2 linked regions of the Homo sapiens genome follow. The protein of the gene in region 2 binds, or shares a complex with, the protein of the main gene of each other region. Each region holds a gene or a part of one and is shown on either strand. Other genes may lie near its edges.

The links.
Region 1: KLHL12 (region 2) and CUL3 share a complex: the UniProt entries of both Homo sapiens proteins name them as parts of the BCR(KLHL12) E3 ubiquitin ligase complex.

What each region holds. Positions count from the first base shown.
Region 1 is NC_000002.12:224,567,071-224,583,358, forward strand, and holds part of CUL3 (cullin-3), read right to left. Parts: intron 2,886-16,288; exon of another isoform or gene 2,703-2,885; coding exon of another isoform or gene 2,619-2,702; intron 1-2,618. UniProt on the Homo sapiens protein: Core component of multiple cullin-RING-based BCR (BTB-CUL3-RBX1) E3 ubiquitin-protein ligase complexes which mediate the ubiquitination and subsequent proteasomal degradation of target proteins.
Region 2 is NC_000001.11:202,919,222-202,935,567, forward strand, and holds the start of KLHL12 (kelch-like protein 12), read right to left. Parts: upstream 8,014-16,346; 5' UTR 7,868-8,013; intron 5,987-7,867; coding exon of another isoform or gene 5,942-5,986; coding exon 5,747-5,941; intron 688-5,746; coding exon 534-687; intron 1-533. UniProt on the Homo sapiens protein: Substrate-specific adapter of a BCR (BTB-CUL3-RBX1) E3 ubiquitin ligase complex that acts as a negative regulator of Wnt signaling pathway and ER-Golgi transport.

The sequences.
Region 1 (16,288 bases), on a different chromosome or scaffold from region 2:
GAATGGGTTCCATCGTGTTATTCCAGGTTTACAGTTTTCCACTAAACATAATGAAAAATATGTGAAAACCGCAAAAGAAAACTTTTTACTACACTACAGAGAGAAACTGCTCACACGAAGATGATTAGTCACAAGGTGTTTTTCTCTTTGTTTTCGTTTTTGTTTTAGACAGGGTCTTCTTCTGTCACCAAGGCTGGAGTGCAGAGGTGCAATCATAGCTCACTGCCGCCTCAAACTCCCAGGTTCAAGGGATCCTTCCGTCTCAGCCTCCTGAGCAGCTGGGACTACCGTTGTGTGCCACCATGCGTGGCTAATATTTTTAATTTTTTTTGTAGAGATGGGGGTCTTGCTTTGTTGCCCAGGGTGGTGTTAAAACTTCTAGGCTTCGGCCGGGCACGGTGGCTCACGCCTGTAATCCCAGCACCTTGGGAGGAAGAGGTGGGCGGATCACCAAGCCAGGAGATCCAGATCATCCTGGCTAACACGGTGAAACCCCATCCCTACTAAAAATACAAAAAAATTAGCCGGGTGTGGTGGTGGGCGCCTGTCGTCCCAGCTACTCGGGAGGCTGAGGCAGGAGAATGGCGTGAACCCAGGAGGCAGAGGTTGCAGTAAGCCGAGATTGTGCCACTGCACTCCAGCCTGGGCAACAGAGTGAGACTCTGTCTCAAAAAAAAAAAAACCTTTCACCTAGTTCACTGCAAGAGCCTTCCAAACACTATGAACTCCAACCTCATGGAATCTACTTCCCTCAAAATCACAATCAAAATAAACATAGGCACACCATGACCCTGTTCAAAACCTTTCTATGGTAGCATAGTAGGCACAGACCTAGTTTATGCTCACTTATCCACACCTGTCTGACATGTATTTCCCAACAACATTAAACCAATGGGAATTCTTAAATATACAACTTGCTGTTTCTCACTCTATTTCCATCACTGTCACAGCCCCTCCCCACTTATTTCAGTTCCCATGTCTTTTTTCCCCCCTGCTTTTGGTCCTCCTTTGCTTTGCCTTTTCTTTATCTGATTCTTTACACATATCTTCTGAACACAGCTAGGTGTCATAACCTCTAGGAATCCTTCACTGAACTCCTCAAGCAAAGTTAACAACTCCTTCTCAGTTCTTCCGTGATATTTTATAGTGTAAACTGTATTTACTTAACTATACACTAAATAAACTGTAGTGTATTTTCGTTTATATGGGAATGTGGTGATAGTCTATAACTACTAGTGACAGTTTGTAACCATCACTACACTCCCATGTAGCTGAATTATCTGTTCATGCATCTTCCTCCACTAGACTATGAGCTTAAGAGATTATGCATTTTTCTTCAATGCCACACAGAAGGTTGTAAACAAATGTCTGTTGAATGAATACTACTTTATCCATGTTATACCAATGTAATTTTGACAACACAAACTTTTTACTTATAAGGCACAATGATACAGGAAAACGGTTGAATGTGTTTACCCTCAGCAATTAATCTAATTTTTAAATAATCAAATCTTTTTCTAACAGAAGTAGTGTACAAGTAACACACTTTTAAATTTTACATCAAGCAATATTTTCAGATTTTTCCCATTCACCTAAAGGCCTCACCCAGAAGGCTGCTTAATCATTAATTTTACTAATAAATATTAACTGGGAAAAAAAGGGTAGACGAAATAGGCCCTTCAGAAGCAGATCAATAAGCTACAATCTTTCCCTAAATCAAATAAGTCCAAAAACTACATATCAAATGAAATGGGCTTCAAGTGCAGATTAATACATACACATGATCGGGTCTTGGCATCAAATGCACGTCAACATCCTTGGCAAAATAATTATGTTACTAATGAGCTTTAATCTTTCCACTTGCCCATCCCTGACACAGAAGCAACATTAACTGCTACTGAAAAATTTTTTAAATGCCTAAATGTTCAACTCTCACCTCATCAATATGTTAACAATAAAAACTTTAAGCTATACTTCATTCCAGGAGCAATAAAATTTAAAGGCTCTAACTTTATGTATTAATATATTTTTTAAAAGAGAAGTAACATTCTTTTAAAGTAACATTCTAAATTACTTGAGCAGGGCTTTAATCCCATTGATAAACTGATTAAGTTGCAATAACTGCAAATACACTAAGGGATCTAGCAACTAATGCGTCAGCAAAACAATAAAATAAACTGCACACACATTTATCATCTATATACACAAACATGTAATATTTGCTATCTAATTATCAGATGTATACAGGACCCTTCCCCAAGAAGGCCAAGTTACAAAATGATCAGCAAGCAAATTAAATTCATTCAGCAGAAAAAGAAACAAAAGCTTTTTTAAAGGAAAAATATAATTAAGGATTCTTAAATGTTTATAGTTTAGTAAGACTTTCAAAAACCAAGTCAAGAATTTAATTTTTGAAAGTGATCTTTGCCTCCTTACCTCCCTCCAATCCAGGATTACAATTTTCCCATCAGAAAAGTATCAATAACAAAAATAAATCTATAATGGTCTTTGTTTTCTTTAAAGCAAAATCTTTTCATTTACATTACTTCAGATGATATAAAAAATATAACCTTCAAAATGCCTGAATTTGAAAGGATGTCAGTCTATTATATACTTACACATCTTGAAGGTTCTGTGATTACTGAGAGAACTACATCATGAGACAAATTAAAACTAAATGAAAAGAAGTGAATTCTTAACATCTACTACATACAAAGGACAAGAAGTCTTTAGTCCTCTGTGAATAATTTTCTACAAGAAAAAATTTAGAACAGGGTGGGTGGGGGAAAGGGTGAGAATTTGAAATTCCAGGCAATTCAGAATGACACAGCTAGAAAAAAAATAAACAAGGGAAAATACTTGATCTTAATTTCAAGCTCCAGTCTCAAAAAAAAAAAAAAAAAAAAAAGCTTTGGTACAAGCATCTGAGGAATGGCAGTATTTTTTAAATCTGATACAACTAAACTATTAATTACATAAGGAAGCTCCCTCCCAAACTGTAAGCACCTCACAGTAGATAAGGTCTTTATGTTATTGTACCCCTTACAATGCGTGGCACAATGTATAGATAATATTAAAAAAAAATGATCTGAATACAGTCCATTTGCAGTTAATGATAAGGAGTCTTATTTGATGACCAAACAGTATACAACTACTTATGACATCTGCAATAATACCATTTATCCATCAATTATTCCTTAAGCAACATCAACCATCAAAAATGTAGCCAAAGATCCAAGCTTTGAGAAAAACAGCCCAGTGGGACACATTCAAACAGACTTTGAACAAATTAACCTTTCAAAGCTCACTTTCCTCATTTGCTTGTGGCCAGAGAAACGTGAGACGGTGGACTGTGGGGTAATTAAGAAAGTCTGTGAAAGCATCTGGCACACAGCACTTGCTCAATAAATATGTTTGTTTCTTCCTTGCCTATGTAGAAGAGACATATAGCCTTGATTAGTGACTTAAAACTGAATGTAAAAACTACTGATGTTTGGTTAACTGGTTTCTCTGGTTACAGTGGAGAACAGATGGGAGTGGGGGAGTGCTGCCAAAAAAAGAGCTGATGCCAAGGAAAAAGAAAAAAAAAGATTATCAATTAGAAAAGCACAGCAGCATGGGACAATTCCATGAAATCACAACCTGATCGACATTCAATTGGGCTCTAGTATCATTACATTACAGAACAGTAACATTCATAATGAGAAAGTTAAATCATCAATAGAAGGTTCAATTATGATTTGCATTTCAGTCCTCAATATGAGTAGGCTATCCAAAACTCAATTTGAGAATGTGGGAAATGTGAAACAATTTTTTCAAAGACACAAGGTCAAGCTTCCAGATTAGCCTATTTAAGTCCATTTAAGTCACAGAGCAATTGAGCTAAAAGTACTAACAACTCTTTCGACTATATCTCTGTGAATGACTTTTGCATATATAGAAAAAAAGGTATGTATAACATTTCAAAATGTGATAATGACCACAACAAATAAGATACAATAATGTAAGTACTCTCACTGAGGTAAAAAGCTTGTCACTGTCCTACTATTGGTGCTATTTCCACCCATAAAAATAGAGATGTTACAGGACTCCCTTAAACACATTTTATCCAAAAAACACAGTAGTCATCATAACTAGAATTCAAACATTGTACTTACAGACCCTCTATATTAAGAAAATTAGTGATTATATCTAAAATCAACACTTCAAAATAAAATTTGTTGTATTTCCCAATATACTATGAAATCCAAAACACTACTATTTATACTATTTAACACTACTATTTATTTATACATGGGTCACATGTATATAAAATTACTTTTTACACATTCATCTATGATAATGTATAAAAACTCTATAAACTGTAAGACAATGACAAATTGATTGTACCTAAATCAATTACACATAACCCAAAGGGAAAGGAAAAAAACATACAAAATACCGAACTGCCATAGTTTGCTCTGTCTTTGAATGATTCTAACTGTAATCAAATAAGATATGACAGCAAAAGGTCTATGACACAAAATTGTTACAAAAATCTGCTATAAGTCTGTTTAAAACTTTCCTACAACTGTCAACTCACCAAAAAAAATGTACACAAGAACACAGCTAACTTTCCCACTGCTTCACATTAGAACTTAACCATCATCACTGAACCATACCATTCATAAAGAAAAATCTAAGACTAAAAAGTAAGTAATTTTTGCAACATCACACAAAATATTTCAAACAAAGGCCACAGGAAAAGACACTAGTAGTCGGTGCCTAGATTTATGTATAAACACAATTGTCTTTTACTGAAATTTTTGGAGCTAGAATAAGCCTAAGGTAACCCCAAGTTAAAACCTCTTCATTTCACAAAGAAGAAACTAAGGCTAAGGAAGCTTATCCAAGATCACACAGAGCAATGAAGGAGTCCAAGTGTCCTAAGCTGAGTGTCCTTCCAGGGTACCATGTCAACTCAAATAATCAGAGTGCTCAATACTGAGAAATCATTTTATAATTAAATAGGCCAGTGTTAACATTGAGTTATTACGGCTACATGTTTGTTTCAGTCTGCTAAAGAGAAAAGAGCTTTTAACCAGAAATCAAGCTTCTGGTCATGGTCCTTCCATAAATTCAAGTCAGGAGTGTATCCCTTGGTAAACCACTTTCTCTAGACCCCTGTTTGCTCATCTGTTGAGAAAGAACAGATTCTCTCAAAAGTCTCTGCCACGGTTTGAATGCCTGTGTCTCCTCCAAAATTCATGTTGAAATTTAATCATCAATTTAACAGTATTAAAAGGTACGGCAATGCAGGTGCAGCAGCTCACGCCTGTAATCCTTGCACTTTTGAAAGCCAAAGTGTGTGGATCATTTCAGCCCAGTAGTTTGAGACCAGCCTGGGCAACACAGTGAAACCCTGTCTCTTAAAAAAAAAAAAAAAAAATTGCTGCTGACCTGCACCTGTCGTCCCAGCTACCCAGGAGGCTGCGGTGAAAGAATCCATTAGGCCCTGGAGGGCATGGCTACAGTTAGCCAAGATCAAGCCACTGCAATCCAGCCTGGGTGAGAGTGAGAGAAAAAAAAAAAAAAAAAAAAAAGGTGGGGTCTTCAGGAAGTGATTAACTCATAAGGGTAGAACCCTTGTGAATGGGATTAGGTGGCCTTATAAAGGAGGCTGACAGAGAGTTTATTTTTTTGCCCTTCTGTCTCTGCCATGTGCAGATACAGGATTCGTCCCCACCAAAGAATTCCGAGAGGACAATGCATCAAGACATCGTGTCGGAAGCAGACAGCAGCCCTCTCCAGACAGCAGAACCTGCAGCACCTTGATCTTGAACTTCCCAGCCTCCACAAATGTGAGAAAATGCATTTCTGTTCTTTATAAATTACTCAGTCTGCAGGATTTTGTTATAGCACCACAAAAAGATTTCAAGAGTCACTTTTAGCCCTCAAAAATTAAAATACTAACACAAGAGCACACAAATTATTATTTGGCTAGTGATAGCATTCATCAAAAAAGCATTATTTCTTTCATGTTGCATTTGCGTACACCAAAAGTAGTAAATTATTACTAGAGAATTTAATCTTTGTATTTCTAATACATTTTACTGTTTAATCTATCTCTTTAGTATATTCTTAAAGACAAAAAATCAAAAATCAAAGTATTTTAGACATATTAACTTCAAGGAATCACTTTTTGCTAAGTATATACTTAAATTTCTATTAACCAAATTTTTTTAATGTGTGTCGTCGGCCTTACAATTTAAAGTAGCAAAGTGTTAACTCATAAATAGGTCAACTAGTAATAATAAGCCTTTCTTACAGGTTATGCTTTTGACTGCTTTATTCAAGTCAATACACACTAAGGTCCCCTTAAACAAGTTATATATTCAAATGTTACTGAACAATACACATTTCCCAAGTTTTTCATAACTTTTATAAATGGTCCATTTACTTAAAGCCAGTAAAACTTAAGCTTACGAAGGAAGCTTACGAAGGCTTCTTCCAACTCCTGGAACCTGAAGGTAGATTCTTTTTGTAAAGAGAGTAGTGCATTGTATAAGCTTCAGCGTCCCCAGATCTGCCCCTGGCTAATAATTTAAAAGGTAACCTTAGAATTAATTTTCTGTATAATGAAAACAACATGAACTTTTCAGTCAGACATACCTAGAATCTGAATCCCAACTCTGCCCTTCTCTAGGCGTATATGTAATATCATAAATATTTTACTAGTCCTCTCTGAGACCCAAATAGATTTAAAACAGGAGTAACCACATTATACTTAAAATTGTTTTCAGGATTTCAGATAATTAGTTAAAAGTATCTAAAACAGCCTACCACAAGTCAGACATTCAACAAGTTGTCACTAATCTTACAAGGCAACCTCTAGTGGAAATGGAAAGGAATTGGAGATGAAAAAGAAAAAGGAATTTTTCACCATTACTTTGGAGAGGACAGGGCAAACAGAAGAGGCTAAGTGTTGCTCAGTTAAGAGCTGTTTTAGGTAAGAATGACTTACAAACACATATGTGAAGGAATTCCTCTTAGCAATGATGGCTTGCTTTTATAAGAAAGTATCTCTAAGGAATCTTATATTTTCTTAAAGTAGGTAAAAATTCCCCTTTGAAGTCGTTTTATTCATCTGCTCAGCAGTAACATTTCTCATTTAAAGAGTAAATTTGGGTCCAATCCTTTCTCAATGATTACAAGTACTAAATGGAGGTCAAATTAGGAAGTTTTGCTTAGTTACATTTTCAACTTTAAAACTGAATTTAAAAAAAAGAATGCTGTCTAGTAGCAACAGATTTGGATTAGGAGTTAAGGCAACTACAGGATCAGTTCTCAATTTCCTATTAACCGTTATCAAGTTGAGCAAGTAGTATTCTCCTCACCTTTAAAAAAGATTCATTAATAATTATTACTAGTGATTTTAAAGCAATGGTTAACAGCATTTCTTAAAATGAAATCTTTTACAGAACCCCATATACAAATGGTAACACAGGAGCTGCTCTCAAGGACCACAGAGGGAGCTTTCAAAGATTTCTACTTAACACTTCCTAGGCCTCCTGGGTCCTAGACACCCTCCAGGCTCCCTGTAAACGTTTGAAAATAACTGCCCTACATGAAACAGAATTATAGTTGAAAATTTTGATTTTATGATTGGGAAATTCTTTTAAATGTCATAGTGATACCACTATTAGCATTTTCTGACATGATTTCATTTAATCCTCACAATTTGTGAAAGACTGCTGTAGTTCTCATCTTAAAGAGGAGGAAACAAACTTAAAGAGTCTGTTAGTTCCTTTATTCAACATTGTGTACTATATGCTGGGTGCGTACTGCTGTACTGATCAAAGTCATAAAAAAGACTGAGGCCTCCTCAAGAAAATTATGCTCTAAAAAAGGAAATAGAGACTCCTCTCTCAAGAATCTTGGCTGTGAAAGGAGGTAGTTACTATAATGCAGAAGACAGGAAAAAGACATTTTCCTTCTCTGAGACCAGAGGGAAGGAGTCGAGAATGAATAAAGATGCAGATTAAATAATATAATTGAAAGGGAAGAATGCTGAATGAACTTCGAACTTTCACCTAATTACATTCCTTTTCACACTGATGTAGTAGTTAGGTTTCTTGAAGTAAGAGCAATTTGAGAATTCTCAAGAGATAGCTTAAGGACAATGATTAAAGTTTGGAATAGCTCAGGCAAGAAAGGGGAGAGGAAGCTGACCAGGGACATAAAGGAAACTGCTCAGAGGCACTGAGAGTCCAGCTAAATTAGAGACCACTGTCTTGCAATTTTCTCCAGGAGTAGCTAGAAAATATGTTCAGTGGGGGCAAATAGGTAGAACGATCCAAGATGCTTTCTGCTGCTATTTCTGGCCTTGTTCTGGGGAGGTAGTAAGAAAGGGGCAACTGGTAACATAGGTGGAAGTGACAGCACCATGGCTTGGGAGAATAAATGGGTCTTCCTGAGATCAAAGGGCACATTAACGTGAGAAGGAACCAAGCAACAAGATAGAATAATTAAATAATAACACCTTGCATTTATGTATAATGCTTATTATGTGCCAAGCACTATTCTAAGAAGCTTTATATGTATTAACTCCATCTTTAAAACAATTTTATGAGGTAGGTATCATCATTTTTTCCTTTTTGCAAAAGAGGGAACAGACAAGACACTAAGTGATTTGCTCAAAGTCCTACATCTAACAAACAGAAGAGCTAGGATAAAATGCAAAATGGAAGTTTGAAGATTTTTAAACTAGTAGGATGACAAGCTCTAAGCGTGAAGATCCCTGCAATACAAGCCTGTCTGATCGCCACTGTAGATCCAGGACCTGACCCATAGCAGCAACACACAATAAACGTATTTTAAATTGAATAAATGAATGACTTCCACATGCAATGAACAAAATTAAAATAGAGGCTAGACATAATATCTGTGAGGAATGTATTAACATAGTATCTGTGAGGAAGGTATTAAACTCCTCAATGACTGAGGGAGCATGAGTTCAGGAAGTCAGATGGTCATAGGGAGAGAGCAGGAGAGTAATTCTCAAGCCAAAAAAGATGATGATGGAAGTGGCAATAAACCACATCTGGGCCCAATAATTCAAGGACTGTAATAGAAACCTCAATTCAAAAAGATAAGCCTGAGAAATAGGGGACCAGAGTGTACAATTTAACAGTGTGACAGGAAGGGATGAGATGCGAAGAACAGTCATGGTGGAGGAAGTGAAATGTAGACCACAGCTAGTAAACAGAAAGACTGGACCGCAGACTAAGTCTTCTAACTCCCAATTCAGGGTCACTGACAATTTCAACTCATTTTTCCAGGAGACTAGGCTGACTACCCTGCTACATACAGAAGTGCCACATGATCTTTAACGACCCTCTACTACATCTTAAGACTTCACTTAGAGTTACAAAAACTTCAAACATTTCAGAGCATCATTTGCGCTGACTCACTGAATTTATCAATTACTATGGTTTGGCTTAGAGGACTAGTTTCTCATGTAATCAATCATTCACTAACCACTCACACTATGCTAAATGCTGCATGGTTCAAAACGATGTCTGGCATAAGCTTTGGACAGGGACCACAACCTAACCTAGTTCAGGAGTGAAAAAAAAGGGGGGGGGGGGAGGAGAAGGAGGAGAAAGGGAGGAAAGGAAGGAAAAAAGAAAAACTAGATGTGTTTTTAGATGCACATTTAACGTACATATTATAGAACATGCAAACCAAATGAGTGTTTATTCCTTCAATAAAGTTACAAGAGGTTACACACTTACTCTAAGGATTACATGTGAATCATATATGAACTTCTGTTTTTGAAGCCACCCCTCAAGAGCCAACAGGATTCTTTAAGTATCCCAGTGGTACTAAACCCATATCCTTTGAGAATGCTTTCTTAGAACGATTCACAAACTGGCTCTGCAGGCTTTTCAAAACTTAAGTTCTAGAAGTTGTACAATAAAATGACAGGATCGCTAAAATAAGTGTATGGCATTCGATGTAACTGCTTGCAAAAACAACATCCAATTTTAATATTGGCCTAATCGTGGCTAAATATTGGTATAATAATAGTTAACTATCTGCTAAGTTCTATTTTAAAGCTTTATTTTATTTATCACACAACAAACCTGTAAGGTGGGTCTCATTAGCAGTCTCATTTTACACAGGGGAAAACTGAGGCTACAAGAAGTAACTTGTTAAAGGTTATGCAGCTAGAGGCCGGGCGCGGTGGCTCACGCCTGTAATCCCAGCACTGTAGGAGGATGAGGCAGACGGATCACGAGGTCAGGAGATCGAGATCATCCTGGCTAACACGGTGAAACCCCGTCTCTACTAAAAATACAAAAAAATTAGCCAGGCGTGGTGGCAGGCACCTGTAGTCCCAGCTACCAGGGAGGCTGAGGCAGGAGAATGGCGTGAACCCGGGAGGTGGAGCTTGCACTGAGCTGAGATCACGCCACTGCACTCCAGCCTGGGTGACAGAGCGGAGACTCTGTCTCAAAAAAAAAAAAAAAGGTGATGCAGCTAGAAAGACATGGAGCTGGTATTCAAGCCCACACTCTTAACTACTATGCTTTCAGTCTCTTTACTTTTTAGTCACATCCCTATATTCATATGTTGAATACTCCAGTGCAAAAGTAAATGAAAATTCTCTACAGACTATTCATAGTTTTATTCTCCTAAGTAGTCAAAGAAATGCAAATTAAAGCATTAAAGTACTATTTTTTCACCTATAAAATTAAACATACATTATGCTGGGTAAGATACTGCTACACAGAAGTTAAACGGATACAACCTTGAGAAATATAATTAATTCTTAAGAGTGCTCACTTTAGAGCCAGATTGCTTGGGTCAGAATCCTAGTTCTGCCACTTGGAAGAATACCTTAAGCAAATTATTTAGCCTCTCAAAGCCTCATTTGTAGAACAGATAATAGTAGTATTCAATAGAGTTTGCTCAAATGATTAAGTTTAGATATGCAGAGTACATGATAAGCATTTAGAAAGTGTTAGCTATTATTATTACCCTTATGGAGGTCAATTAGGTAATATATTTCAGTTACGTGCAGCCCAATAATTCCATAATCATAGATGGACTCAAATATTTATGTGTCTAAATAGTCATAGTTGCAATCTTTTTTAACAGAAAAAATATGGACTCCCTGGAATCAACCAAAATATTTGGCAATAGGGAAATGGTTAAGCAAACTGAAGTATGATAGTCATTAAAAACTATGTTTTCAAAAATTTACAGTAAGAAATTTTTTAACAGCAGCATATACAATGATTATCTTACCTTAATTTTACTGTCTGTTCAGCCAACAATATGAAATTAAAATTCCAAAAACACATGAAAATGTTAATGTTGTTTGTTTCCAAGTGGTAGGATTACAGGTGATTTTTTTTATTTCCCTACTTGTACATTTAGATAATTATCAATTTTTCTACCAGGAATATACATCATTGTTATAATTAGAAAAGCTACTAAAATAAATTCATTGCTTTAACAGACTATGGTTGAATAGTTTTCACAAGACACTGATAGACTAATAACTAATTGTAATTCATGTGTTAACTCAGTGATTTGTTCTTACTAGTAATACCTTTACATTCTGTTGACCTTACAATGGGCTAACAAGAACTACTTTTAAAAAAAAGTTGCATTATTTAAAACTACAAATTGTCTAGTAACTTTTATATAAACCTAACAGGACTACTAAAGACCATCCATGTACTCTGGAATGAAAATAACAAAAAATTCCCTTTAAAGTCCCCCAATGTATAATATAAAAAAAAGGCATACCACTTTTTCTAGCCTTAATCATATAATCTTCCTGAACTGGACAAATGCTTTCATCCCTTAACTTCATTTAATGAATGATGTACAAACAAATGAAGCATTCTCTAATTTGTTTGAATCAAGTTTGTGATTTATGTATTACTTAAAAAGCCAAATTTTTACATTATATTTCATATTACTTAAATAGTTTCTAATTCAATATTGGTACTAATAATTTTCCAGGTTCCTCTGAACTGCTATCTAGAAAGACAAGACAAAATAAATACTTTGTTAATAACAACCGTATGCTTTTATTTTTCTAACTTCTAAAGTCATAGTAGTACTAACAGCTATGACAATACTGGCTGTCCCAAAACTATAAACAGTATTAGTTTAAGTATAAGTAACACTTTAATGAATCTGTTTCACTTTGTTTCATAACATGAAAAATGAAAAGCAAATTTATAATTAATTCTCTGCTCAGTGTGATCTGCAAGACTACCATCCAGCTTTCCTCTATGTACCAGTCCAGGTAGTACTATGCCAACAACTACCTTCCCTAAGAAAGAGAAACCTACTATGAAGATGAAAGCTGTTCCCTCAAATCTGGCAAACATTTCTGTAGCTCGAAGAAAAGAAAAAAAAAAAAAGATTAACTGTACCCATCTGTCCTTAAGACTCTTCCTGTTCTTAAGTATATCACAAATGAACATAAAACTCCTTCACTAATGTGAGTCGCCCTGTATGTTCCAGCTAACAATCACTTCCAAACAGTTGCTGTCCATGCTACACAAGTGGAGTTCCTCTAGCATTAGGGAGTGGGCATTTTATCATAACACTCTTTCTCCTGATGAGTTAGCAAGCTTTTATAAACTAACTGAAGCTACTTCCAGGACCCCAGGGTAGAGATCTTAAGAGCCTGATTACATTCTGGAGACAGTCACCTTCATAACAGGTTTCCCAAACTCTGAAGGCTAGGCCAAGAAAGGCTTTATTACCGTTTGATACAGGAAAGGACAGCATTTTCATTCAAACGTATCCTCTCCAATTCTAATCAAGCTCATCAAACCCATGTGGGCAAAACCCCAGACAGTAAAAATGGTAAGAAATGATTTTTCAAAGATAAAGATAATAAAAGGTTCACCTGAAAGCAACTAATCCTACATAGTGGAACAAAGCCCAGGAGTAAGGAAGAGACTCCCTGGGGCAGAATTATTTGATCCAGACCCACATTATTTCCAGAAGTTTCACAATTACAGCCTGCTTTCTTTAAAAAGTTTTGTGGTCCTTGTTCCTCTGCATACAAATTAAAATTTAAACATTATCAAAAAGATGTGAAATGATACATTTTGTGCAAGGCGGGAAAGCTTATAAACTGGAATAAACTTTTCCTTTGTCAACAGCTTACAAATACAGAAACGTCCTTATTGTCTTCCATCTTAAAAAGAACTTCTAGGAAAAGGTCTATTTAAAAATGCAAATTGTGCATTAAACTGTTGTGTATTATAACTTCTACAGACAATGATGAAGGTATACTTAAAATACGCACTAAGGCTGAAACGCGGTGGCTCACAGCTATAATCCCAGCACTTTGCGTAACAGCGGTGGGCTGATCACCTAAGATCAGGAGTTCAAGACCAGCCTGGCCAACATGGCGAAACCCCATCACTACTTAAAATACAAAAATTAGCCAGACGTGGTGGCGCAAACCGGTAGTCCCAGCTACTTGGGAGACTGAGACACAAGAATCGGTTGAACCCAAGAGGTGGAGGCTGCAGTGAGCCAAGATCGTGCCACTGCACTCTAGCCTGGGCGACAGAGCAAGACTCTGTCTCAAAAAAGAAAAAAAAAATGCACTCAAAACACTAAAAAGAATCTGATATTACTGATGGGAATTTATCTGGAGTAGTATCTATAAAATATCCAGTAAGTTCAATTACCACTCTATTTTGCAATGAAAACAATCTCAAAACACAATTCTATATTTTTTTACAAGTTAATTTTGTAAAACAATCTGAGATGAGTGCTTGAGATTTTTTTTTTTTTTTAAGACAAGAGTCTTGCTCTAAGGCCTAGGCTGGGGAATGAAAGAAATGGGGGCGTGGATTTTGGTCAAAGGATACAAGTTTTAAGATGAATACATTGTGGAGATCAAATGTGCAGCACAGTTAAGAACAGTTAATAATACTATATTACATATTTTACATTTGCTATGGCAGTAGATCTTACTTGTTCTCATCACACAGACATAAAAAACAGAACTATTGGCCGGGCGTGGCGGCTCACACCTGTAATCCCAGCACTTTGAGAGGCCAAGGCAGGCGGATCACGACGTCAGGAGTTCAAGACCAGCCTGACCAACATGGTGAAACCCCATCTCTACTAAAAAGACAGAAACTAGCCAGGCGTGGTGGCACACGCCTGTAATCCCAGCTACTTGGGGAGGCTGAGGCAGAAGAATCGCTCGAACCCAGGAGGCGGAGGTTGCAGTGAGCTGAAACCGTGCCACTGCACTTCAGCCTGGGTGACAGAGCGAGTTTCCATCTCAAAAAAAAAAAAAAGAGGTGATTATGTGTTAGCTTGATGGTAGTAATCATGTCAGAATGTATACATATATCAAAACATCATGTACATCTTAAACATATATAATTTTTCTTTTCTTTTTTTTTTTTTTGAGACAGTCTCACTCTGTTGCCCAGGCTGGAGTGCAGTGGCACGATCTTGGCTCACTGCAACCTCTGCCTCCCAGGTTCAAGTGATTCTCGTGCCTTAGCCTCCCGAGCAGCTGGAATTATAGGCGTGTATCACCACACCTGGCAAATTTTTGTATTTTTAGTAGAGACAGGGGTTTGCATGTTGGCCAGGCTGGTCTCCAACTCTTAACCTCAGGACCTCAGGTGATCCGCCTGCCTTGCCTCTCCCGAAGTGCTAGGATTACAGGTGTGAAGGTGTGAATCACCTTGCCCGGCCGAGTGCTTGACACTTTTGGTGAAACTACAGTTTCCCTTAAATTACAGTAAGTATACATCCAAACAACAGATGTAAAATACAATAATTTTTAAATATGTACATATGTGGAACCATAAACAATTAAGGATGTACATATGTATAACCATAAACAATTTTTTTTTTTGAGACAGAGTTTCGCTTTTGTTGCCCAGGCTGGAGTGCAATGGCGCGATCTCAGCTCACTGCAACCTCGGCCTTACAGGTTCAAGCGATTTTCCAGCCTTAGCTTCCCAAGTAGCTAGGTTTACAGGCATCCGCCACCACGCCCCGCTAATTTTTTGTATTTTAAGTAGAGATGGGATTTCACCATGTTGGCCCGGCTGGTCTCAAAGCTCCTGACCTCAGGTGATCCACCTGCCTCGGCCTCCCAAAGTGCTGGGATCACAGGCGTGAGCCACTGCGCCCGGCCATATTTTTTCTTTACGGAACACTAGGTATTAACTACTTTTGACTAGCAACTCACGCAGTCTGTAGTTATGAACAAGACTGCCAATCTGGAAGACAGGAATTTTGAAGGTCTATAAGCACACGGTTAGTAAGATAAATCTATGAAACACCCTAACACTGAGATATACATCTATCTGTAACAAAGGGCCATAAACTGTAATAGTTCTTTCCAATGGGAATCACTTAGGAATGTTATTAATACTTATTAAACAGTAATGAAAAATTCTTTTAGAAATCAGCAGCTATTAACTACTGAATACCAAAACTAGTCACTTACTTCATGTAAGGTTTTCAGAAAAACCTGCAAAAGTTATAGACAGAATGGATCCAAATTAGCTCATAATCATAACGAAGCTAACAAAAAAAAATTCAGTTCCAGTACTATGTGGTAACGTATCACACAACGTTATTATACTGGTCAGCTAAAGGAATAATGAAATTCTCTCCCACCTCTTCTCCCCAACAATATTAGCTCCAAAAGGCAGGGATCTTGGTCTTTCTAGCTATACTGACAGACCCCCAGAACAGTGCCTGGCACATAATATTCAGTATTTGCTGAACAAATTAAATGATGGCAAAACAGGTAAGAGCAGGGAAACCTGAAGAGGTCAAAGAGTTTAATTACACATACATTAACGTACAACTGGTCAATCAGAAGGCCATTAACTTGAGTGAGTTGATGTCAAATTTGAGTTACTCCACATTTTAGCAAAAAATCTTATTTAGAACATGAGACTTCAAGAATTGAGTAGTGTAAGGCTGCACACACTGCTAGAAAATCTGTTGTATATAGGCCTGGCGCGGTGGCTCACTCCTGTAATCCCAGCACTTTGGGAGGCCGAGGTCGGTGATCACCTGAGGTCGGGAGTTCGAGACCAGCCTGACCAACATGGAGAAACCTCGTCTCTACTAAAAATACGAAATTAGCCCGGTGTGGTGGCGCATGCCTGTAATCCCAGCTACTCAGGAGGCTTTTAACCCAGGAGGCGGAGGTTGCGGTTAGCTGAGATCACGCCATTGTACTCCAGCCTGGGCAACAGGAGCGAAACTCTTG
Region 2 (16,346 bases):
CTCTAATCTGGGTGACAGAGTGAGACTCTGTCTCAAAAACAAAACAAAAAACCTGGGAATTGTAAGGGAAAACAAACCACCTGTAATCCTGTGAAAATATCATACTTTAATATTTTGTGCATCAATTTAAATTTCATGTATCTTAATGAAATACTACCACTTAATGGCCAGATAGATAAAGAGTATCCATGTAGGCTATGTATAGTATCACTTTTTTATTATATTTCCTTATAGGTGTGTTACATACATGTATGTAAGAAAACACATAATTTCTCCTTCCTCCATTTTTTTTTTAAAACAGAAAAGGTGCAAATGCTCTCTTTTATAGAGCCAAATACTCATATCTGGAGAAGTTCCTTTATAGTGCTATTGACATCTGATCTCTTATTGCTCAATGAGACAAAAGCCATGGCCAGCAAACATGAACATCCATAGTTTGTCTCCAAAATGTTCATGATTAAGTTTACACTATTAATTTTCAACCTTTCCAGGGCTATTTTGACATAAACAATAGCAAGTTTTAATGTCTGTACCTTTCAACTGAAGCAGACAGGCTGCAGGAAGCAGTTCTTGTACATTCTCCACTGTCACATGTACTGTTTCTGTGTACACAAAGTCCAATAAAATTTCCATGGTAGAGGCAGTCAAACCTTGGATGTCAACATAAGGTTTCCCCTTCTCTGAGAGCTGAAAATTCAAAAGGTATAAAAGAATGATGGTTATAATTCCACAAGATAAAGGCAGAATCTCATATCTAAGAGCTTAGAGATGTTAATAATATTAATTGAACATTTATCTTTAAAAATTACAGGCCAGGCGTGGTGGCTCATGCCTGTAATCCCAGCACTTTGAGAGGCTAAGGCAGGCAAATCACCTGAGGTCAGGAATTCAAGACCAGCCTGGCCAACACAGTGAAACCCCGTCTCCACTAGAAATACAAAAATTAGTTGGGCATGGTGGCACATGCCTGTAGTCCCAGCTACTCAGGAGGCTGAGGCAGGAGAATTGCTTCAACCCAGGAGGCGAAGGTTGCAGAGAGCCAAGATTGTGCCACTCCACTCCAGCCTGGGCACCAGAGTGAGACTCCATTTCAAAAAAATAAAAAAGAAAGAAAATAAAAAAATAAAATTATGCTCTATTTTGTTGGATTTTTTTTTTTTTTTTTTTTTTTTTGAGACGGAATCTTGCACTGTTTCCCAGGCTGGAGTGCAGTGGTGCCATCTCGGCTCACTGCAAGCTCCACCTCCTGGGTTCATGCCATTCTCCTGGCTCAGCCTCCCGAGTAGTTTGGACTACAGGCGCCCGCCACCACGCCCGGCTAATTTTTTGTACTTTTAGTAGAGACGGGGTTTCACCGTGTTAGCCAGGATGGTCTCGATCTCCTCACCTCGTGATCCGCCTGCCTCAGCCTCCCAAAGTGCTGGGATTACAGGCGTGAGCCACCGCGCCCGGCCAATTTTGTTGGATTTTAATAAAGCAAATATGGCACATTATCTGTAGCTTTCCAAATGAAGTAGGTAGTTATCTATACGCCAGGAATAAGTAATAGGTAACACCTTCCTGGAATAGTAATTTTGCCAGTGAATAACTTTAAAAATCTATTTCATATTAAAATACAGATGTATTTACAGAATAGAATGCAAAAGTTCCATGAACATAACACTGGTCCGTGAACTTTTAAGATAAGACACAATATTTCAAAGAAATTTCATGTTCGTAGAGGAGCCTGTGGGTTATAACTCCAGTCTCTCCAGGACTACCTAGTTCCTATCATCTGTCCTTAGACTACTTTTTTTTCCCCTTTGTTGAGATAGGGTCTTGCTCTGTTCCCCAGGCTGGAGTGCAGTGGTGTGATCTCAGCTCACTGCAACCTCTGCCTCCCAGGTTCAAGTGTTTCTCGTGCCTCAGCCTCCCAAGTAGCTGGGATTACAGGAGTACACCACTACAACCAGCTAATTTTTTTTTTTTTTTTTGACACAGTCTTGCTCTGTTGCCCAGGCTGGAGTGCAGTGGCGTAATCTTGGCTCACTTCAAGCTCCACCTCCCAGGTTCAAGCGATTCTCCTGCCTCAGCCGCCTGAGTAGCTGGGACTACAGGCACATGCCACCATGCCTGGCTAATTTTTGTGTTTTTAGTAGAGATGGGGTTTCACCATGTTGGCCAGGCTGGTCTTGAACTCCTGACCTCAAGTGATCTGCCCACCTCAGCCTCTCAAAATGCTGGGATTACAGGCGTGAGCCACCATGCCCGGCCCTTAGACTGCATTTAGTAATGACGAAAAAGAACATGCAGGTCATCCTAAGGGACTTTCTTATGTAACATCATCTGAATACAAATAAATTATTTGTTACTTTTTCAAAATATTGGGTTAGACTAACTGAATTGTTAGCAGTATATTTAGTCTAAATTGTTAGTAGTATATCTTCTTGAAGCTATGAGTATTGATGAGGCCAGATAATCATAGAAAACTGTTTAGCTAAGAGAAGAAATCTTCAATTTTACAGGAAACTATCTGAAAATACCTTATGAAAATTTTACTAGATCTTAATCTTAGTTTAGAAATTCATTTTACTTAAAAAACTCTGGTGCATCTCCATTATTAACTAAATGGCTTTAACGTTTTTTATTTCTCCATCAGCCAGAGAATAACCAAAAAGCACTCTCTACCAAAGCCAAGAACAAAATCAATCCCTAACACTAAAAAAGTCACTAGCACATTATTTTGAAAAAACATATTAGGTTTTATTAACATTTAATACAGTACTAATATTCATAAACAATTACTATCCCAACACATTAAATGCATTTAATAATTATGGTACTGAAATATGTAAGTACATGTATTCCAGAAATTTCTCATTCAATAAACTACATTTCCATCAAATAGTTTAAATATGGAAACAATTTCACTATGTAAGAACTTAGAGCAATTATACATTTTACAGTTATATTTTGCTTTAGAATTTTTCAGCATGCTTCTCATTTACTACTATTTCATCTGATTCTCACAGCAACCTGGTAAGGTAGTTAGGTCTGATATTATTACTATCTAAGAGATAAAGGGGGGCCGGGCACATGGCTCAAGCCTGTAATCCCAGCACTTTGGGAGGCCGAGGTGGGTGGATCACAAGGTCAGGATATCGAGACCATCCTGGCTAACATGGTGAAACCCCGTCTCCACTAAAAATACAAAAAATTAGCCAGGCGTCAAGGAAAAAAAAAAAAAGAGAGAGCGATAAAGGGTCTAAAGATCAAAGAAGATCCAAGACTTTTTTTTTTTTTTGAGACAGAGTCTCGCTCTGTCACCCAGGCTGGAGTGCAGTGGCGTGATCTGGGCTCACTGCCAGCTCCGCCTCCCGGGTTCACGCCATTCTCCTGCCTCAGCCTCCCGAGTGGCTGGGACTACAGGCGCCCGCCACCACGCACGGCTAATTTTTTGTATTTTTAGTAGAGACGGGGTTTCACCGTGTTAGCCAGGATGGTCTTGATCTCCTGACCTCGTGATCCACCTGCTTCGGCCTCCCAAAGTGCTGGGATTACAGGCGTGAGCCACCACGCCCAGCTGAAGATCCAAGACTTAACCAGTCACTTAGCTAGTAAGAGACAGATATCATTCTTATTAAAGTATTTCAGGAAAAAAAAAAGAGAGAGAGAGAGAGACAAAACCCAGGTCCTCCTGCCTCAGTCTTTGTGATCTTTCAATCAGATGACATTTGAGGAGCATTTCATAGCTGAAGAGAACAAGGAAACCATCTAGTTCAACTACTTTATTTTACAGATCAACCCAGTGAAGTTAGATGGTTCCCAGGGTTTATACAGAATTGCTAAGAGAACTAAGCCTAGAATCCAGGTCTCTGGACTCTCTCCTTTGAACAATTACTCTCAAAAATAAAGACAAAACCATCTAGCATTTCCTTGCCTGATGTCAGTTTTTAAAGAAAGAAATCATCACTGATGAGAAAAAAAGAATTCATTTCCAAATAACAAAAGAGTAAAGACACTATTTTCAAGCTGACAAAAAACAGGATGCACAACATATAATTAGCAATCAGCCGTTCTAGTTCATTTCTTGCTCAGCAGCTGCTGGGTGACACTCTCTTTACCCAGTTAAATTCCAAATGCTTCTGATGATCTTGGGTATATCTCATGGAGAACAGTATAGGACAGGGATCTGCCTTGGTATATCACACAAGTTTATTTAAAAATTAGCCTGAATTAGTTGGAATGACCTGTCAGGTTCCTGTTTTCCCTACTAGCCATGTGACTGAGCATTGGCTCATAGTATTTTTAACTATACCAGTTTTAAAATTAGATTGTAGTATATAAAATTCATACTTCGGAGGCTAAGGCGGCACAAGAGTTACAAACTGTTTGGGCTTTAGAGTTGGAAAATATAAAATGAAATCCCACCTCTAGCACTTACAAGCCATGGGACTTTGGGCAAGTGATTTAATATCTGAAACCCTATTCCTTCATTTGTAAAATGAGATGGTAATACCTACCCCTAGGGTGAGTCAGATATGCACAACAATTACTAGCACAGTACCTGGCCCATAAAAGGTAGTTATTACCATCACAGAATACGCCTCTCCCATTCTGATTCAGCAGCAATATCTACACTAAGATGATAGAACTAACTAAAAAAAAAACAAAAAACAAACAAAAAACTTGTGCTTAAAAAGACTTTTAAAACAGTGTTTTCATAATGAAATATTTCAGGCATACATGTAAGTGTAAATTATATAATAAACAGTGATGCACCCACAACTGAGCTTTGAAAAAATAAATCAAGATAATTTATTTAAATCTGCTCTTAAAATGAGACTTGGGATCTTGAAAAACAAAGATTTGCAATGTTATTTTCTGTTCAGCTTTCTAAGAATATTCAACACAATATATTCAGCAGCCTTACTATACATTTCAAGTATTTTGTCAGGCAATTACTAAGTAGTGTTTCTTAATACTTTGTGAGCACTACCTGTATTCTCTCAAGCCAACCTTTTCCTAATTCCCTTTGTTAAGTGCTTATGAGTTAACATCCTTTCTCAGGTTATACACTCAACGCCTGTACAGCTATTCATTAAAAACTCTTCTTCCTTTCATTTGAAGTTATCCTAAAATTTACACTGATTTTCTTCACATATTGTTAGGAGGAGTGGGATGTGGTTTGAATCCTACTCCTCTCTCCTTCCTTCCTCCTTATCCCTCTGGTATTCACTTAAAAATTTTTAAACTTTAGAAGGAAAAAAGGCTGGATGCCGTGGCTCACACCTGTAATGCCAGGTGTGGCCACTCTGGGAGGCCAAGGCAGGAGGATTGCTTGAGCCCAGGAGTTCAAGACCAGCGTGGGCAACATAGTGAGACCCTGTCTCTACAAATAAATAAATAAAATTAAAAACAAAAAAAGGAGAAAAATTGGAAGACAAATTTAAGAAATAGTAAAATCCAATAGCTGACATGTGTGTTTTACTACATATTACACTATTCTAAGCACTTCCTATGTTATTTCATAAAATAATCTTCACAACAACCTTAATAACCATGTGTTACATATTACTATTATCCCTAACTTAAAGATGAGGAAACTAAGGCATAGTCATCTAAGTGGTAGATCTTATCCAGAATCTGCCAAAACATCACACTGTAAAAATTCAAAATTATATCAAACTTCCACTATTTTATTCAGTGAAATTAGACAACTAGAGTTCCACGGGTTTCATTTGTGTGGGGCTAATTTACCACTTACCTCACTAGTGAACATGGCACAGAAGTAATCACTACAGGCAGCCAGCACAATCCGATGGGCAGGGAAGTCTTTCTGCTCTACTCTCAATGTCACATCACAGAGGGTATTGCTCTTCCTGAGGGAGTTCATTGAATTGAGGATGGATTTAGCATGAGTATTTGTCATTATGTCTTTGGGGGCCATAATGCCTCCCATAAAGCAGTGCGGAGAAAGAACAAAATGGGTCCTTGGATTCTGCAACTACAAGAGGGAAAAAAAAACAATGAGCATATTCAAAGAACTAGGGCAACTGAACATATTTAATTAGCTTTACAAATTAAGAACCTAAGAGGCTTCCTCAGACCCAAACATACACAAGTTGAGGGCACTCCTATGCCTGGCATCACCACCAACCACTAGCCACTATCTAGTCCATGTAAAAGCTCTCTCTTCTTCCTCTGAATTCCTCTATCACGGAGTGTCCCTACCACTTGACATTTAATATGATCAATGCTGAAATGTAAGTAGAGATAAACAATATATGTCTTGTAAATCTTGACAAGGTTCTTGTCTCAAATGATAAACCGAAAATATAAAATTTCTTAAAGGTGTTATATTATTACTATTTAATGTCCTTAAGTAGATAAGTATTTAGAGCATACATAAAAAGAGGATCCTGCTTTATATGTATGCTTTCTATCCTAGAAGTTGCACAATAAATGTTTAGAATTTAATGTAAGAAAAAGTGTGTATTCAACTTCAACTTAGAGCAAGAAAGGCCACTCAGTAAAAATAAACTTTTTTCTAAAGAAGTATCCAAATGATATGTCTGATGACTTCCAAACATATCTGGATTTCTTCTTAAAATGAAACTTCAGGCCGGGCCCAACAGCTCACTCCTGTAATCCCAGCACTTTAGGAGGCTGAGGTGGGTGATCAGTTGAGGTCAGGAGTTTGAGAGCAGCCTGGCCAACATGGTGAAACCTAGTCTCTACTAAAAATACAAAAAATAGCCAGGCGTGGTGATGCGCGCCTATAATCCTAGCTACCAAGAAGGCTGAGGCCCGAGAATCACTTGAACCCAGGAGGTGGAGGTTGCAGTGAGCCGAGATCACACCACTGCACTCCAGCCTGGGCAACAGAGCGAGACTCTGTCTCAAAAAAAAAAAAAAAAAAAGAAACTTCAATTGAGGACCCATTACCTACACTGAATAATGGAAACCACGCAAGTTATCGATGGACTTACACTTGCTTAAGATATTGAAGCTCTTCAACAAGAGGGTATTCCTACTCTACATCTGTGAATGTCCATTACTGTTAAAGAATCGATATTGGAATCCAAAACTTTCTGAAATGATCCGGGGGGAAGGAAATCAAACTGTGGTCTCCAAAAGTCCACAAGTCACAATTAATCTTTCAACAGGAAAAATGAGATCCTAAATTCTCATCTACTTCTGTTTGTAGTTGGCATTTTACTCTATAAGCACTATAGATAATTCCTCCAACAACTCTGCAAGACCCATTTTACAGAAAAGCGGGTGATTCATCAAAGCATATGTTTTTCAAAAAGACTTAAGTCAACTTAGTTGCAACTCTAGGGGTGTAAAAAGGTCTAGAACAAATGTCCATTTACTATGAAGACAGCCCGGGGGGTCTTTTATCGTTTCCGTGTCAAAATGACAGTACCCCGGTGCAGAGTGGTCTTCCTTCTAGGGGATTCCTGCCTCAACACTCCAAGTCTCAGCATATCCTTCATCCTCACCCTTCTGAAGTGACCTATTTTCTAGAACTTTCGTTAACATCTGAATGGAGGGATTCCACTTCGGGAGATTCGGGGCAGGGAATGGGTAGTAAACTCGGGAAAGACTAAATTCTAGAGAAGGAAACGAAGTCCTTCCTCCTAATACCACCAGGCATATGGCCGCCACCGCCAGGTGGAGGTATCGGAGAGGGGCAGTTCAGGGGGAGAGTTGAGAGGGTGACCGAGGCCAGATGCCCCACCCCACTGCCAGCCTTCCTCCTCTGTTGGGCATGTCTCCCATTCCGCCTTGCAGGGAGACCAAGGATGGGGGGTAGGGCCATAACCCGGAGTTGACGGACAGGAAGGGAAGGGCTGACTGCCATCACTTCCGCGCAACTCACCTCCGCTCCCGAACCCACACAGCCGCACCGGGCCCGTCCCCAGCCTGTGGGGATGGAGTGCGGCGCGGGGCTAGCAGGCGGCTCGGGAGGAGCCGAAGCGCCGCCCAGACCCGGAGGCTCTGGAGGCTCTGGAGCCGTCCGGGTCTGGCCCCTGCGGCCGCGCGACGTGATGACGCAATGCAGCTGGAGCACCGCCCTCCCCCCGCTCCAGAGTCTGCGTCACGTGAGGAGGTGGTGTCACGTGACCTGTCTGTACCCTAGCGCGGGGCTTCTGTACGCTGCTAGGAAGCCGAATTACAAAAAGGTCGGGTGGGCAGGGAATGGTGGCTCACGCCTATAATCCCGGCACTTTGGCAGGCCGAGGCGAGCGAATTACCTGAGCTCCGGAGTTCCAGACCCGCCTGGGGATCACGGCAAAACCCCGTTTCTACAAAAAAAAAAAAAAAAAAAAAATTAGCCCGCACCGCGCCTGTAGTCCCAGCTACTCGAGAGGCTGACAGGAGGATCACTTGAGCCAGGCAGCAGAGGTTGCAGTGAGCCAGGATCGCCACTGCACTCCAGCCTGGGCCACAGAATGAGACCCTGTAAAAAAAAAAAAAAAAAAAAAATGTCCAGGCGTGGTGGCTCACGCCTGTAATCCCGGCACTTTGGGAGGCCGAGGCGGGTGTATTACTTGAGGTCAGGAGTTCGAGACCAGCCTGGCCAACATGGTGAAACCCTATCTCTACTGAAAATACAAAAAAATTAGCCGGGCGTTGTGGCACGCGCCTGTAATCCCAACTACTCAGGAGGCTAATGCAGGAGAATCGCTAGAACCTGGGAGGCGGAGGTTGCTGAGCCGAGATCGCGCCATTGCACTCCGGGCTGGGCGACCGACTGAGACTCTGTCTCTTAAAAAAAAAAAAAAAAGGCCAGGCGAGGTGGCTCACGCCTGTAATCCCAGCACTTTGGGAGGCCGAGACGGGTGGATCACGAGGTCAGGAGATCGATTCTGGCTAACACGGTGAAACCCCGTCTCCACTAAAAATACAAAAAAATTGGCTGGGCGTAGTGGCGGGCGCCAGTAGTCCCAGCTACTCGGGAAGCTGAGGCAGGAGAATGGCGTGAACCCGGGAGGCGGAGGTTGCAGTGAGCTGAGATCGCGCCACTGTACTCCAGCCTGGGCGACAGAGCAAGACTCCGTCTCAAAAAAAAAAAAAAGAAAAAAGAAAAAAAAGAAAAAACAAAAAAAAGGCTGGATGTTGTGGGGTCCGGCAGGGAGCCTGGGAATGTATCTACAGCTCGGCGATTGGCTGAGCCTGAGTTCCTCCCTACCGCTCACTAGGCAGGGCAGGCAGAGAGAATTCCAACGCTTAATATGCCAAGCATCTGATTGCAGCAAGTATGTTTTACCTTCCAGGTACTGAGGAACTTTTTGACATCGAGAAAACCCACAGAGGCCTCAAATTTATTCACGTCCATTGTCCACAATGGCCTTTTCGGGCCGAACAACGCTGCGGCGAGAATCCTCTGAGCCTTAGGATCCACAGACCTCAGTATATACTCTGCATCATAATGGGCCCTGTCATCACCACTGAATTGATTCTAAGGAAATTCTAATTGATTCAGGAAATTCTAATTTATTTTGGTGCACTTAGTGACTGAAAAGGCAAAAAGCTTAATTAGTTCAGCTTATCTGAATGTCTAGACAAATTGTGTTTGGTAATACTATTATGCTCTGTGAGCCCTTTGATTCTTTTTTTTTTTTTTTTTTTTTTTTGAGACGGACTCTTGCTCTGTCGCCGAGGCTCGAGTGCACTGGCGCGATCTCAGCTCACTGCAACCTCCGCCTCCCGGGTTCAAGCAATTCTCCTGCCTCAGCCTCTCCGAGTAGCTGGGAGTACAGGTGCACACCACCACGCCCGACTAATTTTTGTGTTTTTAATAGAGACGGTGTTTCGCCATCTTGGCCGGGCTGGTCTCGAATTCCTGACCTCGTGATCCGCCCGCCTTGGCCTCCTAAAGTGCTGGGATTACAGGCGTCAGCCACAGCGCCTAGCCCTTTGATTCTTAAGGGTACTAAAACCATAGCCAAGTGGGTAGCATTCTAAATTTACAACGTGTCCCCATCTTCCATGTCATACCTTCCTGATCTAAAACTGTCCCTGACTCACACATTGTAGAGAAGAATGCAAGATTGGTATATTATTGGGGGCATTTTGGAAATATTCGTCGATTTTAATAAAATTTTCCTTCACATATACTCGTGCACATGTAAAACGATGTATGTACAAGATTGTTAACTGCAGCATTGTTTGTAGATTAGATCAACAACAACATTAAATGTCCATTAATAGGGGACTGATTCAATAAGGTATAGTACATCCATAAAATCCAATACCATGAAGCTGTGAACAATTTATATACTCTATTATTGGTGTAAAAAGGTGGAAGATATATTCATATTTGCTTGTGTATGTGTAACATGTATTTGAAAAGACAAAGTGGTAACCTTGGTTTCTTTGGGGAAAGGAACTGTTTGGTTGTGAGACAGGGTGGGAAGGAGATTTTTGCTCTTTGTAATTTATTTTGCCTTTTGAATTTTGCTTCATATGAATTAAAAATAATGTTCAGAGCCTGGTGCGGTGGTGTACACCTACCTGTTGTCCTATCTGCTTTGGAGACTGAAGCAGGAAGATTGCTTGAGCCCCGAAGTTCGTGACCAGCCTGGGCAACGTAGCAAGAGCACGCCTCAAAATATATTTATATGTTCAATTTTTTAAAAAGTAAAAATAGGCTGGGCACAGTGGCTCACGCCTGTAATCCTAACACTTCGAGAGGCCGAGGCGGGCGGATCACCTGAGGTCAGGAGTTCCAGACTGGCCTGGCCAACGTGGCAAAACCCCGTCACTACTAAAAATAAAAAAATTAGCCAGTCATGGTGGCCTGCGCCTGAAATCCCAGCTACTCAGGAGGCTGAGGCCGGAGAATCGCTTGAACCCAGGGAGCAGAGGTTGCAGTGAGCTGAGATCACGCCACTGCACTCCAGCCTGGGCAACAGAGCAAGGCTCCATCTCAAATAAATAAATAAATTAATTAAATTAAATAAAAAGTAAAAATAATTCCTTGTTTTCAGGATGTAAAATAGTACTTTAATGATATTGCCTAATTCCTGACTGTTAAATTAAGGATTTTTCCAAATATGAGAAGGAACTTAATAATAAAAGAGGCTTTGTTTAGAGTATGCCTACTCCTTTTATTCACAAAATAAAAGATGGAGAAGTTGTTAGCAAGATTATCACACCAAAGGAACTAGTTCAGACTTCTGACTTTTTTCTTCTTTTATTTCCTCTTTTTTGTTAATATTTGTCGGTACATAGTAGGTGTATATATTTAGGGGGTACAGAGGGATTTTGATACAGGCATATAATGTGTACTAATCACATCACAGAAAGTTGGGTATCCATCCCCTCAAGCGTTTATCCTTTGTGTTAAAACAATCCAAGTATACTTTTAGTTATTTTAAAATGTACAATTCAATTATTATTGACTATACTTACCCTGTTCTATCAAATACTAGGTCTTATTCATTCTTTCTAGTTTTTCGGTACCCGTTACCCTCCCCACCTTCCCCCAACCCCCACTGTCCTTCCCAGCCTCTGGTAATCATCCTTCTACTCTCTATCTTTGTGAGTTCAATTGGTTGGTTTTTAGATCCCACAAATCAGTGAGAACATGCGATGCTTGTCTTTCTGTGCCTGGTTTATTTCACTTAACATAATGACCTTCAGTTTGATTCATGTTGCTGCAAATGACAGAATCTCATTATTTTTAATGACTGAATAGTACTCCATCATGAATAAGTACCACATTTTCTTTATCCATTCATCTGTTGATGGACACTTGGGTTGCTTCCAAATCTTAGCTATTGTGAACACTGCTGCAACAAACATGGGAGTGCAGATATCTCTATGATACACTGATTTACTTTCTTTTCTTTTTTTTGAGACAGAGTCTCACTCTGTTGCCCATGCTGGAGTGCAGTGGTGTGATCTCGGCTCACTGTAACCTCCGCCTCCCAGGTTCAAGCAATTTTTCTGCCTCAGCCTCCCAAGTAGCTGGGACTACAGGTGCAGGCCACCATGCCTGGCTAATTTTTGTATTTTTAGTAGAGACAAGGTTTCACATATTGGCCAGGCTGGTCTCAAACTCCTGACCTCATGATCTGCCCACCTCAGCCTCCCAAAGTGCTGGGATTACAGGCATGAGCCACCACACACAGTTGATTTACTTTCTTTTGGGTATATACACAGTAGTTGGATTGCTGGATTGTATGGTAGTTCTAGATTTAGTTTTCTGAGGCGCCTCCAAACTGTTCTCCATAGTGGTTGCACTAATTTACATTTCCACCAATAGTGTACAAGGGTTCCCTTTTCTCCACATTGTTGCCAGCATTTGTTATTGCCTGACTTCTGCATAAAAGCCATTTTAACTGGGATGAGATGATATCTCATGTAATTTTGATTTGCATTTCTCTGATTAATTATGTTGAGCACCTCTTCTTATGCCTGTTTACCATTTTTATGTCTTTTTTTGAGAAATGTCTAAATATTTTGCCCAACTTTTATTTTTTAAATATTTATTTATTTATTTTGAGACAGGGTGTTATTCTGTCACCCAGACTGGAGTGCAGTGGTACGATCTCGGCTCACTGCAACTGCTACTCCTCAATGCTGGGCTCTAGCGATCCTCCCACCTTAGTCTCCTGAGTAGCTAGTATTGCGGATGCATGCCACCATGCTCTGTTAATTAAAAAAAAAATTATTTTTTATGAGAAGAGGTCTCACTATATTGCCCAGACTGGTCTGGAACTCTGGACTAAGCAATCCACCTGCCTCAGCCTCCCAAAGTTGGGATTACAGGTGTGAGCCACTGCACCTGGCCTTAACCAGATATAATCAGATTATTAGATTTTTTTCTATAGAGTTGTTTGAGCCCCTTATATATTCTAGTTATTCATCCCTTATCAGATGGGTAATTTGAAAATATTTTCTCCCATTCTGTGGATTGTCTCTTCACTTTATTGATGGTTTCCTTTGCTGTGCAGAATCTTGTTAACTTGATGGGATCCCATTTGCCCATTTTTGCTTTGGTTTCTTGTATTCATGCAGTATTACTCAAGAAATTTTTTCCAACCCCACTGGAAACAAGAATCTTTAAAAAAAAAAATAAAGAAATTTTTGCCCAGACCAATGTCCTGGAGATTTTCCCCAAAGTTTTCTTATAGTGGTTTCATAGTTTGAGGTCTTAGATTTAAGTCTTTAATCCATGTTGATTTGATTTTTGCATATGGTGAGAGATAGGGGTCTAGTTTCATTCTTTTGCATGTGGATATCCAGTTCCCCCAATACCATTTATTGAAGAGACTCTTTTTCCCAGTGTATGTTCTTTGGCAGCTTTGTCGAAAATGAATTCATCATAGGTATGCGGATTTGTTTCTGGATTCTCTGTTGTGTTCCATTGTTCTCTCTGTGTGTTTTTATGACAGTACCATGCTGTTTTGGTTACTATAGCTCTGTAGTATAATTTGAAGTCAGGTAATGTGATTTGTCCCATTTTATTCTTTTTGCTCAGGATAGATTTGGCTACTCTAGGTCTTTTGTGCTTTCATATACATTTGAGGATTGTTTATGTTTCTGTGAAGAATGTTACTGGTATTTTAGAGATTGCATTGAATCTGTAGATTGCTTTGGGTAATATGGACATTTTAACAATATTGATTCTCCCAATCCATGAACATGGAATATCTTTTTATTTTTTGATGTTTTCTTCAATTTCTTTCATCAGTGTTTTATAGTTTTCATTGTAGAGATTTTTTATTTCTTTTTCTTTTTTTTTTTTTGAGATGGAGTCTTACTCTGTTGCCCAGGCTGGAGTGCAGTGGCATGATCTCGGACTACAAGCTCCGCCTCCCGGGTTCACACCATTCTCCTGCTTCAGCCTCCCAAGTAGCTGGGACTACAGGTGCCCACCACCGTGTTAGCCAGGGTGGTCTCGATCTCCTGACCTTGTGATCCACCCGCCTCGGCCTCCCAAAGTTCTGGGATTACAGGCATGAGCCACCGTGCCCGGCCAAGATTTTTTATTTCTTTGGTTAATTCCTTGGTATTTAATTTGTGGTTATTGCAAATAGGATTACTTTTTTTTATTTATTTTTCAGATTGCTTGCTGTTGGCATATAGAAATGCTACTGATTTTTGTATGTTGATTTTGTATCTTGAGACTTTACTGAATTTATCAGTTCTAATAGTTTTTTGGTGGAGTCTTTAGGTTTTTCCAAATGTAAGATCATGTCATCTGCACGCAAAGATAATTTGACTTTTTCCTTTCCAATTTGGATGGCTTTATTTCTTTTTCTTGTCTGATTGCTCTAACTAGGACTTCCAGTACTATATTGAATAACAGTGGTGAAAGTGGGCATCTTTTCAGGTTCCAGATCTAAGAGGAAAGGCTCTCAGTTCGATACAAGCTGTAGGTCTGTCATATACAGCTTTTATTATATTGAGGTATGTTCCTTCTATCCTTAGTCTTTTGACAGTTTTTATCATGAAGGGATGTTAAACTTTATCAAATGCTTTTTCAGCATTAATTGGAAGGATCATATGATTTCATTCTGTTGACATGATATATCACATTGACTGATTTGCATATGTTGAATCATCCTTGCATCCCTTGGAAAATCCCACTTGGTCATGATGAATGATCTTTTTAATGTATTGTTGAATTAGGTTTGAAAGTATTTTGTTAAGAATGTTTGCATCAATATTCATCAGATATGTTGGCCTGTAGTTTTCTTTCTTTCTTTCTTTCTTTCTTTCTTTCTTTCTTTCTTTCTTTCTTTCTTTTTTTTTTTTGATGTGTCTTTGTCTGGTTTTGGTATCAGGGTAATACTGGCCTTGTACAATGAGTTTGGAAGTATTCCCTTCTCCTCTATTTTTTGGAACAGTTTGAGTAGGCTTGGTATTACTCTCATTATAAATGTTTGGTAGAATTCAGCAGTGAAGCCGTCAGGTCCCAGGCTTTTCTTTACTGAGAGATTTTCTATTACAGATTTGATCTTGTTACTTCTTACTGGTCTGTCCAGGTTTTGGATTTCTTCATGGTTCAATCTTGGTAAGTTTTATGTGTCTAGGAATTTATCCATTTCTTCTAGGTTTTCCAATTTATTGGCATATAGTTGCTCATAGTAGCCATTTTTTTTTGTTTTGTTGATCTTTTGTATTGTTTCCTTCATTTCAAATTCATTTATTTCTGCTCTGATCTTTATTATTTCGTTTCTTCTACTAATTTTGGGCTCTGTTTGCTCTTGCTTTTCTAATTCTTTAAGATGCATCATTAGGTTTTTTATTTGAAGTTTTTCTTCTTTTTTGATGTAGACACTTTTAGCTATAAATTTCCTTCTTAGTACTGCTTTCACCATATCCTATAGGTTTTGGCATGTTGTCCTTCCATTATCATTTGTTTTAAGAAATTTTTCAATTTCCTTCTTGATTTCTTCATTGACCCACTGGTCATTCAGGAGCATGTTGTTTGATTTCCATGTGTTTATATAGTTTCCAAAACTCCTCTTGTTATTGATTTCTAGTTTTATTCCATTGCGGTCCGAGAAGATGCTTCATATTATTTCAATTTTTTTGAATCTTTTAAGACTTGTTTTGTGACCTAACATATAGTCTGTCCTTGAAAATGGTCCATATGCTGAGGATAAGAATGTGTATTCTGCAGCCACTGGATGAAATGTTCTGTAAATATCTATTAGGTTAATTTATTCTATAGTGCAGATTAAGTGCAATGTTTCTTTGTTGATAGTTGATATTCTGTCTGGGAGATCTGTCCAGTGCTGAAAGCGGAGTGTTGAAGTCTTCAGGTATTATTGTGTTGGGGCCTATCTCTGTCTGTAGCTCTAATAATATTTGCTTTATATACCTGGGTGCTTCAGTGTTAGATGCATATATGTTTACAAGCGTTATATCCTCTTGCTGAATTGTCCCGTTTATCACTATATAATGATCTTCTTTGTCTCTTCTTGTTTTTGTCTTAAAATCTATTTTCCTTTACATATAAGCATTTCCCCTAATAAAATCTTTGCACATATAATTTCATCTTAGCAAGTGCTTTCCTGAGAACTAGACTAACACACAGGACATCTGAGAATTTCTTTGGGTCCTATTCATTTGCAATAATCCAAGTTTACTAAAGTTCCCAAAGTTGCATTTTTTAAAAATTGAAAATGGGTGTTGTATTAGTCTGTTCTCTCACTGCTAACAAAGATATATCCCAGACTGGATAATTTATAAAGGAAAAAGGTGTGGTTTTTTTTTTTTTTTGAGATGGAATCTTACTCTGTTGACCAGGCTGGAGTGCAGTGGTGCAATCTCTGCTTGCTGCAACCTCCACCTCCCAGGTTCAAGCAATTCTCCTGCCTCATCCTCCCAAGTAG